Linked DNA regions of Homo sapiens. The protein of the gene in region 1 purifies or fractionates together with the protein of each later gene. This does not show direct contact. Each region holds a gene or a part of one and is shown on either strand. Other genes may lie near its edges. The genes, in order: ADCK2 and CLPB.

Region 1 (7,271 bases):
ATGATTCTGGTGGAGAACATCTAGCATTATTTCTGCCATAATCAATGACTCCAGAGTGAGAAAATAATTAGCAAAGTCACATACTGTGCCTTTGTTCTGCTTTGATTCCAGGGCAATTGAGTCAACAAGGACCTCCTTCATGCTCAGGGCCCTTGGGACCTTTGTATAAGGATACAGACTTAGCAAACACACTGGGGTGGTCGGGGCTCCACTTAGGTACCTGTTGGCTCCTTGTTGGGTAGTGCAGGAATTGGGAGGTTTTCAGAAGCAACCTGCCGAGTATTTGTTTGGAGGCTCTGATTTAAGATTTTAAGTCCTAGGGATTCATTCCAATGTTTAGAAAGTCTCTTAGTCTGTTCGGACAGAATCCCATAAACTAAGTAGCTTACATACAACAGAAATGTATTTCTCGAGGTTCTGGAGGCTGAAAATTCCAGATCAAGGCATCGGCAGATTCGATGTCTGGTGAGGCCCCACTTTCTGGTTCATAATTGGCACCTTCTGTGTCATCACATGGTAGAAGGGGTAAGGGGTCTGTCTTGGGTCTCTTGTGTAAAGGCGCTGATTCATTCATGCAGGCTCTGCTCTCATGACCTAATCACCTCCTAAAGGCCCCATCTCCTAATACCATCACCTTAGGGCTTAGCATTTCAACAAAGGAATTTTGGGGGGACACAAACATTCATAGCTACAGAGCAATGTAATTTGATAATAAAAGCAAATTAAAACAGAGAAAATAGCATCGATTCCAACAACCATCTCTGCATTAATTCCTCTCAGTCCTGCCACTCATCTGAGTTTCAGTTCCCCTTGCGGAAGTCTGACAGACATCATGTGGTTCCATCACTTCAAACTCACATCTCTGAATCACACCCCATTTGTCTTAAAAATCAGCTCTTCCTACTAAGCCTGTGTCCGTCTCTCAGTAGTCCCATCATGTTCCTAGGCTGGAAGCCTTAGAGTTGTGGGTCTGGGTATAGTGTGTGAGTGTCTCTCCATTCATTTATAAGTTTATGTAACAGTGACTAAAAACTCTGTTAGGGCTGGGTGCGGTGGCTCATGCCTGTAATCCAAGGACTTTGGGAGGCTGAAGTGGGTGGATTGCTTGAGGTTAGGAGTTTGAGATCAGTTTGGGCAACATGGTGAAACCTCATCTCTACCAAAAATACAAAAAATTACCTAGGCGTGGTGGTGCTCACCTGTAGTCCCAGCTACTCAGGAGGCTGAGGTGGGAGAATCGCTTGAATCTGGGAGGCAGAGTTTACAGTGAACCATGATCACACCACCGCACTCCAGCCTGGGTGACAGAGTGAGATCCCATCTCAAACAAACAAACAAACAAACAAACAAACAAACAAAAAACTCTGTTAGACGCTAGTAAGCAAAGAAAACAAGTGAGCTTTCCTATCCCTAAGAAAGACAGTCAGGGCCAGGTGCCGTGGCTCACACCTGTAGTCCTAGCACTTTGGGAGGCGGCGTCAGGTGGATCACTTGAGGTCAGGAGTTCAAGACCAGCCTGGCCAACATGGCGAAACACTGTCTCTACTAAAAATACAAAAATTAGCCGGGCATGGTGGCACACGCTTGTAATCCCAGCTACTCGAGAGGCTGAGGCAGGAGAATCGCTTGAACCCAGGAGGCGGAGGTTGCAATGAGCCAAGATCATGCTTTTGCACTCCAGGCTGGGCAACAGAGCAAGACTCCATCTAAAAAAAAAAAAAAAGAAAGACAGTCAGCCCTCTGTCCATGAGTCCTGTATCCCCGGATTCAATAAAAAATGTAGTTAGGTCTGTGATAGTTGCATCTGTATTGAACATGTACAGACTTTTTTTTCTTGCATTATTCCCTTAACAATGCAGTTTAACAATGATTTACAGAGCGTTTAGATTGTATTAGGTATTATAACTAATCTAGAGCTGATTTAAAGTATATGGGAGGATATGCATAGGTTATATGCAAATACTGTGCAATTTTATGTCAGGGACTGAGCCATCTGGTATCTGAGGGAGGCCCTGGAAGCAATGAACCTGAGCCTGGCTGAACCTCAGCATGGTTCATCAGGGCTCAGAGGAGGACTTGGTTGGTGTCCTTAGCTTGAGCTGAGTATTGAAAGGTGACTGGTGTTTGCAGTTGGACCAAGTGGGGGAATAACATTCCAATTCGAGGCAGTAAAGAAGCCAGAGGAGAGCCGGGGGTGTTAGCCACTCTGGGATGTCGAGCACTATATGGAGTTGGGTGAGGCCAGGTCTTGGGTGGTAAAAGGCAGGGGAAGGTGCCATGAGAGATGGACCTGGACAGAGAAGTAGGGGCCAAATCATGACCCACCTGGATGCCATTCTAAGGAGTGCAGACTTCACCATGCAGGTAATGGATTGGAGAGGAAGGATGGGTCAAGGAGCACACTCGAGGCACCTCTGTTTGTGCTCAGGTGACTGGACCTGAGGGCATGCGCCTTGGGAGTGGCATTGGGGGACAGGGACTGATCTGAGGGCGGTGAGGCTGCAAACTTGATGGCATTGGGCCATTGCTGTGCACGGAGGGGAAGAGAGAAGGCATGATCTGGGGACTCAAAGGTGACTGAGTGCGTGGGGATGGTGAAGGGAAATTCCATTTAGGCACAGAGCTTCAGGGTCTCTGGGCTCCCACCGGGCCACATCCAGGTGTCATTGGATATATCACTCTGGAGACTGGCATTGAGGTCTGACCTGGGGATCAAGGTGCTGTCAGAGGAGGCGCCGGCTGAGGGCTTGGTGGCTGTCAAGGGGACACACACGCTCACTTCGGTCAGGAGAAAGGACATCAGCTCCTGGGGGCACAGGAGACCCAGCCAAGACAGGACAGCGAGAGGCAGCAGGGGTGCCAGGAGAGTGAAGGGCAGGTGCCGGGGGAAGAGCCATCACGGAGAGACAGGTCAGCAGCGGCACCAGCCCTGGATGCCCACAGAGGTTGATGATAAACCTGGAAGTGGTCCTTTGGGTCTGGTGAGTGGTGGTTGGGGAGAGTAGCAGTGGCAGTGTCGATGCGGTGGGTGGAGAGCTGCCGCGAGATGAAGGGGTAGCCCTGTGTGGAAGCGCCCACAGCACGCTGGCCCTAATGGAAAGAGAGGGCTGGGGGCTGGCCTGGAGAAGCCAGACCCCAGGGAGACGGGGAAGGGACTCATGGGCTGGTGTGAGGCAGGCGGGTGGCAAGGGCGAGAGTAGCAGAGAAGCAGTGCAGCCCAAAGCCCACCAGGGCACCTGCCGTCTGCAGCCTCCAGGAGTTCACACAGAGATCTGGGATTGCTGGGGCAGGCTGTAGCCCACGGATGTCGCCTCCTGAGTTTCTGGGCAAGTTCTGCGGGGCAAGCTGGTGGGGAAGGTGGGGTGGATCTCATGACTTGCTAGCTCCTTGGCATTGCAGATGTCACTGTGCCTGTACCCAGACTAGCCCTCATCCTTTCTGTCCATTTCTCTGTAGATTGACCTGCGTTACGAAGCTCAGAATCTAGAACACTTCCAGGTCAACTTCCGGAATGTGAAAGCCGTCAAGTTCCCCACCCCTCTGCGCCCCTTTGTCACCAGAGAAGTCTTGGTGGAAACGTATGAAGTAAGAGTGATGGCTTTGCCTGGCCATACCTTTCACTTGCCACTCGCAGTGGGCCCGTCTCCAGCCCACAGAAAGGCTTCAGTCTGGAGAGAGGATGGGATTTGTGTCTGTAAAACTGTGAGGAGCTGGGATGTGTTGGCCTCGGCGGGAGGCAGTGTTGGAGTGAGGTAGCTGAGAACACTGGGTGTGGCCCGATCCCCTAGATTTGAAAATCTGCTCTGCCATTTTATTAGTTGGTGACCTGCCTTAGAGGATTGTCTCAGGAGTAAATGACACACTGAATGCAAAACAAGGAGTTGGGCACAGAGAAAGTGCTGAACAACCTTGTGTCATCTCACTTGCCCTAGCTATCCTCTACTCTAGTTCAGCCTTCTCTCTCTTTTTTTTTTTTTTTTTTTTTTTTTTTTGAGATAGAGTCTCACTCTGTTGCCCAGGCTGGAGTGCAGTGGCATGATCTCAGCTCACTGCCACCTCCGCCTTCCAGGTTCAAGTGATTCTCGTGCCTCAGCCTCCCAAGTAGCTGCGATTACAGGTGTGTGCCACCACACCTGGCTAATTTTTGTATTTTTTAGTAGAGATGGAGTTTTGCCGTGTTGGCCAGGCTGGTCTGGAACTCCTGACCTCAAGTGATCTGCCTGCCTTGGCCTCCCAAAGTGCTGGGATTACAGGCATGAGCCACTGCACCCAGCCCAGCCTCCTCTTTACAGATGGTGATATGAGATTCAGGGAATCTCATGAATGTGACATGAACCACACAGTGTTTCTAGCTGTGTGAACTTGAGCAAGTTGCTTAACCTCTCTGGGCTTTGGTTCTTTTATTTGTTAATTAGGGATAACAAGATCTATCTCCATGGGTTGTTTTGACAATTTTTTTTTTTTTGAGACAAGGTCTTGCTCTGTTGCCCAGGCTGTGGTACAGTGGCATGATCTCGGCTCACTGCAGCCTCCACCTCCTGGGCTCAAGTGATCATTCCACCTCAGCCTCCCAAGTAGCTGGGACCATAGGCACGAGCCACCATCCCCATGTCCGACTAATTTTTGTATTTTTCTGTAGAGCCTGGGTTTCTCCCTGTTGCCCAGGCTGGTCTCAAACTCCCAAGTTCAAGTGATCCTCCTGCTTTGGTTTCCAAAAGTGCTAGGATTATACGTGTTAGCCACCACACCTGGGTAATTTTTTTTTTTTTTTGTAGAGATGGGGGTCTCCTTACGTTGCCCAGACCCCTATTGGCTGATTCTTGCCCAGAAACCAGCTCTCTGGTGCCCACCCCTATCTTTTCAGGACATCACATCTCTTATCTTCAGTAGCAGAGTTGATAGGTTTCCTTTTCAATAAACCTATGTGACTTGTCATCCTTCTGATAGCTGTTATAGAAGGGAATGTAAATAAGTTCAAATCAATGTGTGGATGACAGATTTTTGTTTTGTTTTGTTTGAGACAGAGTCTCTGTCACTCAGGCTAGAGTGCAGTGGCGCAATCTCAGCTCACTGAAGCCTTGACTTTCCGAGTTGAGGTGGTTCTCCCTCATGTTGTCCAGGCTGGTCTTGAACCCCTGGGCTCAAGCAATCCTCCCAAGGTGCTAGGATTACAGGTGTGAGCCACTGCACATGGCTGAATGACAGATGGGTTCTAGGAAAGGAAATACTCTTTGGGTTACTTCCCAATAAGTGAGAAGACAGCGCTGTGGTGCCACGTGGGAGGAGGAGCCAGCATCACAGGCTGGCTGGGATTAAGCTGTTCTCTCCCTGGTCTTTCTGAAGGAGAGTGTGCCTGTGTCCAGTTACCAGCAGGCAGGAATTCCCGTGGACTTGAAAAGGAAGATTGCACGGCTGGGGATCAACATGCTCCTGAAGATGGTGAGCTCATGGCTGGAGCGGGCTCAGGCCCAGCATGTGGTCAGCTTGCAGATGGGGAGTGGGCTGGGACTCTGGCTATCTGGGTGGGAAGGAGAGCGAAGCAGCAAGCCGCCAGGTTGAGAAAGTCTGGTCTAGAAAGAGTGGAGGCTACCATAAATGGCCATGGTGTCTGTGAAGCTCTTTTATTTTTTTTTTTTTGAGATGGAGTCTTGCTCTGTCGCCCAGGCTGGAGTGCGGTGGCGTGATCTCGGCTCACTGCAAGCTCTGCCTCCTGGGTTCACGCCATTCTCCTGCCTCAGCCTCCCAAGTAGCTGGGACTACAGGCGCCCGCCACCACGCCTGGCTAATTTTTTGTATTTTTTTAAGTAGAGATGGGGTTTCATCATGTTAGCCAGGATGGTGTCGATCTCCTGACCTCATGATCCACCCGCCTTGGCCTCCCAAAGTGCTGGGATTACAGGTGTGAACCACCACACCCGGCCTTTTTTTTCCTTTTTTAAGATAGGGTCTCACTCTGTTGCCGAGGTTGGAGTGCAGTGGCAAAATCTCCATGAACTACAGCCTCAACCTCTTGGGCTCAAGTGATCCTGCCTCCTCACTCCTCAGCCTCCTGAGTAGCTGGGACTACAAACATGAGCCACCAAGCCTGGCTAATTTAAAAAATTGTTTTGTAGGGACTTACTATGTTGTCCAGGGCAGTCTTGAACTCCTGGGATCAAGCGATCCTCCCACCTTGGCCTCCCAAAGTGTTGGGATTACAGGCATGAACCACCATGCCCGGCCTCTTAAGTGCTTTGTCAGTGGCTCATGCTCTGTGTGCTGTGAGAAGAAGGGTGACCATGACCCAGTTCTGCCAGCATTGCCTGTAGTTTAGCAAACAGCTGAGACAATATCTTATTTTAAATGCTGCTTTGCTCATTTGTTCAGCAAATGTTTATTGAGCACCTGCTAGGTGCCAGGCACTGAATTAAGGGCTGGGGTTACAGCAGTGAGCAAAACAGACACAATTACAATGCTCGTGACATACTATTCCTTGGGAAGATAGGTGACGACTAAGTAAATGATTTATAGGGATAGGTACGGGGTACCAAAAGGTCATTTCGGAGGAGACTGTGCTAACCCAGGGATTCACTCAGGAAGTGGCTCCATCTCAGCTGCAGTGTGAAGGTCTAGGTGTCACTACATAAGGACAGGTGGCAGGGAGTTGTCTAGAGAGAATAGCCTTTGCTGAGGCCTGGGGTGAGCTACTGCATGGTGCTCTTGGAGAGACGAAAGCACTTAGTATGGCTTGGAAGAGAGTTTGAAGGAGGGGGCAGTGATTGCTGAGGCTGAGGAGGTGAGAGGAGGCTGAGGAGGTGAGAGGGGCCTGACCACAAAGGGTCTAGTAAATCTGTGAAAGAGTTTGGACTTTAATCCAAGGGCAGATAAGTTCATTTTGAAGATTTTTGCCCTTAACTTTAAAAAATTGAATTCCAATAATATTTAAATATAAAGTGCTCAGATCTTAAATGATGCTTAGTGAATTTTTAAAAAGCATCCCAGTGCCCAGATTAAAACATAGGAGAGTTTTGGCTGGGTGCAGTGGCTCACACCTATAATCCCAGCACTTCAGGAGGCTGAGGCGGGGAGATTGCTTGAGCCCAGGGGTTTGAGACCAGCCTGAGCAAGATGCCAAAACCCTGTCACTACAAAAAAAAAAAAAAAAAAATACAAAAATTGGCCACGTTTGGTGGCAGCATGCCTTTAGTCCCAGCTACCTGGGAGGCTGAGGTGGGATCACCTGAGCCCAGGAGATGGAGGTTGTAGTGAGCTAAAATCATGCCACTGCACTC
Region 2 (7,271 bases), on another chromosome or scaffold:
TCAATGTCTGAACCACAGGACTGGCTTTCATATGCATGATAAGGTGTATTGTACAGATAAGGAAACTAAGGCTCAGGAGGTTAGATAGGTGGGCTAGGTTATACAGCAAATAAGCGACAGAGCTGGGCTAGACCCCAGGTCTGACTGTCTCCAGATCCTGCTCTTTCACTCTACTCCAGTGCATTTGCTCATGAGTGAGTCTTTTGGCTGGACTGAGAGTTCCCTGAGTCAGGGCTGGCTATGAATCCGCCCACTGCCCAGCAGTGTAGCTCAGAACCAGGCTGGGCACAGAGGGCTCCATGTACCTGGTATTGAGCTATTTGAAAAGATTGTGCCTCTCCTGTTGACTTTTGAGTTTTTCTGAGTCAGTCCAATTTTCTTTATGGCCACAAGGTGGTGGCAACAGCCTGCAGGCTGCCCAGACCAGGCCAGACGCACTTAGCTAGCGTTGCTTTTCTCCTAGGCTTAGTGTCTCCTCTGCTTTGGGTCTCCCTTCCCTGGGCTCAGCACTGGGGAGTTTGCAGACGTCTCAACTGTCATTTCATCTCCTTGACATCCTTGTGAAGCTGGCAGGGCAAGGAGTTTTGTCTATGTTTTACAGTCAGGAAAGCTGTGGTTGAGAGAGAGAGGAGCTGTCATGGTCACGTGGTGAGTAGTGGGAGTGGAATGGAGCTAGATCTCAAAGACTCCTAGTTGAGACCTCTCCATCCTCAGAGAGGCCTACACCCTGCTTGCTCCTCTCCATTCTACCTTTCCTTTTGGGTTTATGACTTGACATCAAGATTCAGAACTGGGTTGAAGAACTGGAGTTGAGGGAGAAAGTGGACAAGATCAGGGAATCTTTAGTAATAACTCTTATAGGAACATAAAGCATATGCAGAGCTTCATAGATTATGAAGAGCACATTATTTACCATAGGCAAGACGTGGTGCTAGCAGTTGACCTGCATTCCCTCTATGATGAGAGGAGTGAAGAGTTTGGGCTCTGTAGTAGAAAGGTGTGGAAGTCAGGTTGTTAACAGTGGACACCATGTGGGGAGGGAATGATTCGTTTCTCATTATATATTGTGACATCAGTTTGCTTGTCAAAGTCCACGTTTCTAAAGTACTGCCACTGTCTTAGTGGGCCCTCCACGCAGTCCTGAGATGGGTATGTCCTGGCCGCGGATCTGACCAGTGCCCCCTTTCTCTTCAGATGCAGCCCTGTTGGAAGCTGCCCGTGCCAACAATATGCAAGAAGTCAGCAGGTGAGTTGAACCCCAGGCCTTGCTCTCCCCTACAGGAGAGGCTGAGCAGGGCGAGCCTCTTCTCGTGTGATGACTTTGCTTTGGAGGAAATCCTTACCCTAAGCTGGGAACTGTCCCCTGTGACATCTCTGTAGTCACAGAGTCACCTGGGCTTCCTTTACCCAGATCACCCCTTGGATATTTTCGGTAGGGAGTCAGCTCCCAAACATCCCTGGATCCTTCAGCTATTTTGTTCTTCACTGGGTTGGTTTGGACTCCCTTCAGCCCCCATATCCTTTGGGTTCTTCTCTGAATCTTCTGATTTGTGCTCATTTCTTTGGGAATGGCCATGTATTACTGCTTGCTGCCTGGACAGGTTGCAGGTCGGCATCTATGGAAAGGCTTGGGGATTTGGGACAGAGCTGGAAGAGACCATCTGCCAGAAGGTCTGGGGCTAGAAATGCCTGCCTGCAGGGCCAGGGGCCCATACCTGGCTTTGCCCGGGGACAGACTGCATTTCTGTAGCTTCACTGGCTCAGCTAGTCTCCAGTGACCACTGGCAGGTTGAATTTGAGGCTTATTATTTGGCAAGGGCAAGATTCAACTCGGCTCAGCCCAGTGCCAGGTATAGGGCAGAGTCTGTGTCCAGGATGGATGCTCAGACTGGGGCCAGCATGGGGCATCAGTTACAGGGCTGTTGGTTAAGGGCAGAGGTCTTATTCTTGTTGAAACTATGCCCCCCACTGGGCCTAACCTTGGCCTCTCTTGGCCATTTATATAGAGCTAGGTGGCCATAGGACACCCCCCTTCCTTGCCATCATGTCTGCATGTTAGACAGGAAGTCAGGTGTTGGGGTGGCTATTTCCACACCCAGTGCCACAGGCCCTTGGTGTTCTTCCCCACCTTAGCTTCCTGAACATACAAGAAAGTGTTGAAAAGCAGCCCACCCCACCAAGACTTACTGCTTTGATTCCCTTTCATTTTATCTGCAGCATTATTATTGATTCTCAAGGGTGCTTTTGGGTATTAATGTTCAAGCCTTAGTTTTTAATAAACCACTTTTGGAAATATGGGCTGGGAGTTGTTTTGTAGCCAAATAAATATGTTGGAGCAATAGTTTAATAAACATGCGATGATGCATCTTAAAAACCAAGCACAGATGTCATCCTGTTGTTATAAGAGCCATTCATAACTGCAGGCTGTGTGTGGCATCTTCATTCCTCCAGAAACAGATGTGCTTTGCTTCATTCTGCTGCAGTACAGGAGTACGGGTATGGAAACTGACCCTTGCTGACCCTGGAATCACCTGTTGGCTACTGCGAAGGGCTGCCGGGCTGCGACTTTCCCCTTTTGGCAGGGCATTTGCAGAGCAGCAATGTTGGGAATCCACTCTTCCATCCCCCAGGGGATGCCACTACCATATTCCATTGAGCTGCCAGGCATTGATTATTTAGTTCTTTCAAATACATGTTTTTCTAATAGCAATTAAACACCCATCCCAAAAATACAGAAAGTAATTGAACTTAACGGTGTATGTGTGATTCAGACAATTTTTCTGAACATTCATTCTCGTGTGGATAGTGTCTGGGGGGGCTTTTCATGTGTGTCCCCAGGCTCTAGCCTGCTTTTCTCCTGCCTCCTCTTGTCCCACCTCACTTGGTCAGGATGACCCTGTCAGAATCTCCCTTCACTCCATGTGAGGACATCAGAGATGAGCGAGGCACAGACCTGCCCTCAGCCCCCATCTCATACAAGACCACAGAGCCAGGAGCAAGCTAAGCAAAGGCGGGAAGCAGATGCTGGCTGGCTGCTGGGCCTGCGGAATATGTTGATGCTCCTGAGGTGGGATTTGTACAGGGTGTCAGAAAAGAGGGAAGGTTGTCTGAGAGAAGCTGGAATGTGCAAGGCCTGCCATGCCCAGGGTGAGGAGTTTTGAACTCTTACTCTGTACACAGTGGGGAGACGTGGGAAGTTTTTGAGCAGGGGAATGACCCAGTTAAGGCTGACTTGCAGAGGAGTGAAGGATGGACTGCATTGGGAAAAGGCTGAGGGCCGATCTGTTAAGAGGCTGTTTCTGTTTCAGTAAAGACAGATTCAAGATGATGAGGGCCTGAATGAGGACATCCTTCCCTCCCCCTCACCCAAAGCAGCTCTTGATTATGAAAGAGTGAGTGGGCCTCTGCTGGGCACTGCAGATGGGGGATGGGGATGGTGACCCAGGCCCTGGTCTCAAGGAAACAGACATGTAACCCACCAGTTATAGTTCTTCCTGCGAACAGAGCCAGGTCTGGGGGCAGTGGGGGTAAAGGGAGCCTGACCATCCTTGCTAGAAGGAAACTTTCTGGAATTCCTACAGTAGGTCCTTATTCAGCCTTTCTGTACCCTAGACTCTGTACAGGTGGTTCATGCTGCTCTTTATTTCTTCTTCAATGTCCTGGGCTCTTAGCTCTGCCCAACAGACCTGCCTATAGCAGGACAGAATCCCATACTCATTTATTTCTTTGAATTTACACATACAGTCATGCCTTGCTTAACAATAGGGACACATTCTGAGTAGTGCAATTTCATCACAGTGTGAACATCATAGAGTATACTTACCCAAACCTAAATGGTAATAGCCTACCACACACCTAATCTATATGGTATAGCCTGTTGCTCCTAGGCTAGGAATCTGTATAGCACGTTATTGCCCTGAATACTGTAGGCAATTGTAACATAATGGTAAGTATTTATGTATCTAGACATACCTAAATACAGAAAAGGTCATTTGTTGCACTATGATGTTGAGACAGTTACAACGTCACAAGAGGATAGGAATTTTTCAGCTTCATTATAATCTTATAAGACCACCTCATACATGCAGTCTATCGTTAACAAACACATCATTGTGTAGCGCATGACTGTAGGTTACACATGGTTGGGTCACTGTGTATATGATTGATATGGTCAATAATATCAGTATTTAGAGCAAAACTCAGACCTCGTAAATAATGTCGTGCTTTACCCTTCTTCCCCACTTGACCTCTCTGGGGCTCTGTACTGTGTCTGCCTCTACTTGACCTCCCCCAGCTCCTGTCCTTAGCCCCAGAGTCTTGGGAAAGTTCTGGATAGTGAAGGGCAGCAGCCTAATGCTCTTCTGCTCCCAGGGGGAGGTATTCGATCCTCCTCTTTAAGGACACCCTGGAATCTTCAGTCCATGGGCCCTGGATGTGGGTCCTCCACAGATGGCCCTCTGCCATCTGTATTCATTATCCTCTGCTTACACCTTTCAAAGCTCTAGTGCTGCTTTCCTTACAGAGCCTTCTTGGATTCCTCCCAGCTGGGTGTGATCTCATCTTCCTTTGCCTCTTCCCCCCACTCTGATCCTACACCTGCCTTCTGGTCTGGGAGGGTATGAGGGTGATCTAGAAAGGACCATGGCAGCTTGTCACAGGAGGGAGCTCCTTTTGTGGAAGAGAAGCTGGAGGTCAGGTTGGAGAAGTAGAGCTGAATGCCACTTGCCACACTGTTCTTTATATGAAGAAGTCTGTGGGCTATATTTCATCTGAAACTGCTGGATTGTGCACCTCCTGAAGGGCAGGGACAAGGTTGTGTTCTCTACCGTCTTTTACCCTGTTCCACAGCACAGCGGCACTTACTTGTTTTTTGTGACTCTTTCTTTGCTTTTTATTGACTTTTCAGTGTACCTGAAGTAAGCAGTCCAGAGGCTTTCACACTCCCCTTGGCTATATCAGAGGGAGGCCAGGTCTCTTCTCTTTCCTCCCTCCCTCGCTCCCTCCCTCCCTCCCTTCCTGTGTGACATCCATTTCCTCCCTTCTCCCCTGAGGCACTTAAGTTCATCCATCTCTGGTTCCTCAGAAGTGGAAGCCTGGCCTCCTACCTGTCAGCAGTGTGAGCAGGTGGTCCTGCTCCTGGGCTTACCCCAAACTTGAGCCTGAGGAACTGCTCACCCGAAACCTAGGGCACAAGGCAGACTAGAGGCACATCTGTCCAGGCTCAGGCCAAGCCATGTGAGGAGTTGTCAGGACTGGGACTGGGAAAAGTGAGGCCTCCTGTTCTCCCGGTGGAGATCACATTTCCTTCAGCACAAAGTGGGTGAAAGACAACACCCCTACCCATCTCCCTTCTCCCAGCAGGGGGCTAGGCCTCTGCTGAGTGCTTACCTCAGTTGTTCATCAGCCCAAGCAGTCTCTAATAAAGGAAGCCTGGCAAGATCAGTCTTGGGCCTCAGACTGCCTGCCCTTTTTCTCCAGGATTTATTTATTCATTTGACAAACAGCATCTGCCATATCCTGAGTCCTCTGCTTGGCACAGGGAACACTTAAGCAGTCATGGTTCCTGCCCATGATGACAGAGTCGGGGTAAACTGTGGCAATAGGGTGGTCAGTGCTGTGAGACAGGAAACTACAGGGGCTGCAGGAGACCAGAGGACAAACAGCCTGGAGGATCTGAGAAAGACTTCCAGAGGAAATGGCACCTGATCATAGACTTAAAATATCAGTTGGACTTTGTAAATAGAAGGGGAAGCCATTCCAGGCAAAAAGGGCAGCATATGTGGTAGCATAAGGCAAGGAGCAGCCTGGGGGGTATGCAGAGGGGAAGTCACTTGCTGTTCGGTGTTGCTGGATCACAGTCTGAGGCCAGGAGGGACTGGAGACAGGTAGCGACCTGGTCGTGGAGAACATTGATTGACTCTCCGTTTGTCCCTCAGTCGCCCATCTGTCCAGCCTGTGCTTTGTGCCTAGCCCTGAGCTGAATTTGTGGCAACAAAATGAGGAAGGAGAAACAGTCCCTGCCCTAGAGGAGCTCGTGTGCCCTCTGGTGAGGAAGAAGGACATGAGTCAAACATTGAGAGCCAGTGAAACAAGGAACAAATTACCTACCTTCCAACTAACATGAAGATGATAATAACTAACCCCACAGAGTGGCAGAGTCATTATTACTAATAACAAAATGATTAATTCATTCAGCCAATACTTACGAGTGCATATTCAGAGCTAGGCATTGGGCTGAATGTGGCAGTTAACAGTAACGAACAAGATTGGCACAGTCCCTGCCCTCTTGGCACAGTCTAACTAGGAGTCAGATAACTAATTATGCAACTGTAAAATTAGTAGAAAGAGTTTACTGGGGCCAAGTTTGAGGACTGCAACCCAAGAGTCTAGATTCAAGTTGCCATAAATATATGCTCCAGATTAGCAACAGTTGCAAGTGTGTTTTTAAAGGGAAAAACAAGAGACACTTTTTTGTTGTTTTTGAGACAGAATCTCAGTCCGTCACCCAAGCTGGAGTGCAGTGGCACGATCTCGGCTCACTGCAACCTGCGCCTCTTGAGTTCAAGTGATATTCATACGTCAGCTTCCCGAGTAGCTGGAATTAGAGGTGCATGCCACCACACCTGGCTAAGTTTTTTTTTGTGTTTTTTTTTGTTTTGTTTTGTTTTTTTTGAGACGGAGTCTCATTCTGTCCCCCAGGTTGGAGTGCGGTGGTGCGATCTCGGCTCACTGCAAACTCCGCCACCCGGGTTCATGCCATTCTCCTGCCTCAGCCTCCCGAGTAGCTGGGACTACAGGTGCCCGCCAACGCGCCCGGCTAATTTTTTGTATTTTACAAAGAGACAGGGTTTCACCATGTTAGCCAGGATGGTCTGACCTCGTGATCCGCCCGCCTCGGCCTCCCAAAGTGCTGGGATTACAGGCGTGAGCCACCACGCCCAGGGTATTTTTGTTTTTTTTTTAAGTAGAAATGGGGTTTCACCATGTTGGCTAGACTGATCTCGAACCCCTGACCTCAAGTGATCTGCCCACCTCGGCCTCCCAAAGTGTGCTGGGATTACAGGCCTGAGCCACCACGCAGAAGAGGCACTTTCCAAGTTGTTTACCAAGAATTTACATTAAAATAACAAGCTATTGTTTGGCTATACATTGTTCTTTGTATCACATATTCCAGGAACTACAGGAAAATAATGGGTGAGGCAGCTAGTTAGGAAACTACAGGGTAGAAAAGAAAGAAAAAAATGGCTTTAAACAATTGCCCCCAGGCATGG

What was found.
Region 2: the proteins of ADCK2 (region 1) and CLPB purify together in Homo sapiens (affinity purification with mass spectrometry; 2 studies listed by BioGRID and IntAct, with this or other methods). This does not show direct contact.

The regions. Positions count from the first base shown.
Region 1 is NC_000007.14:140,675,699-140,682,969, forward strand, and holds part of ADCK2 (uncharacterized aarF domain-containing protein kinase 2), read left to right. Parts: intron 1-3,456; coding exon 3,457-3,585; intron 3,586-5,343; coding exon 5,344-5,439; intron 5,440-7,271. UniProt on the Homo sapiens protein: The function of this protein is not yet clear. It is not known if it has protein kinase activity and what type of substrate it would phosphorylate (Ser, Thr or Tyr).
Region 2 is NC_000011.10:72,424,287-72,431,557, reverse strand, and holds part of CLPB (mitochondrial disaggregase), read left to right. Parts: intron 1-1,194; coding exon 1,195-1,246; intron 1,247-7,271. UniProt on the Homo sapiens protein: Functions as a regulatory ATPase and participates in secretion/protein trafficking process. Has ATP-dependent protein disaggregase activity and is required to maintain the solubility of key mitochondrial proteins.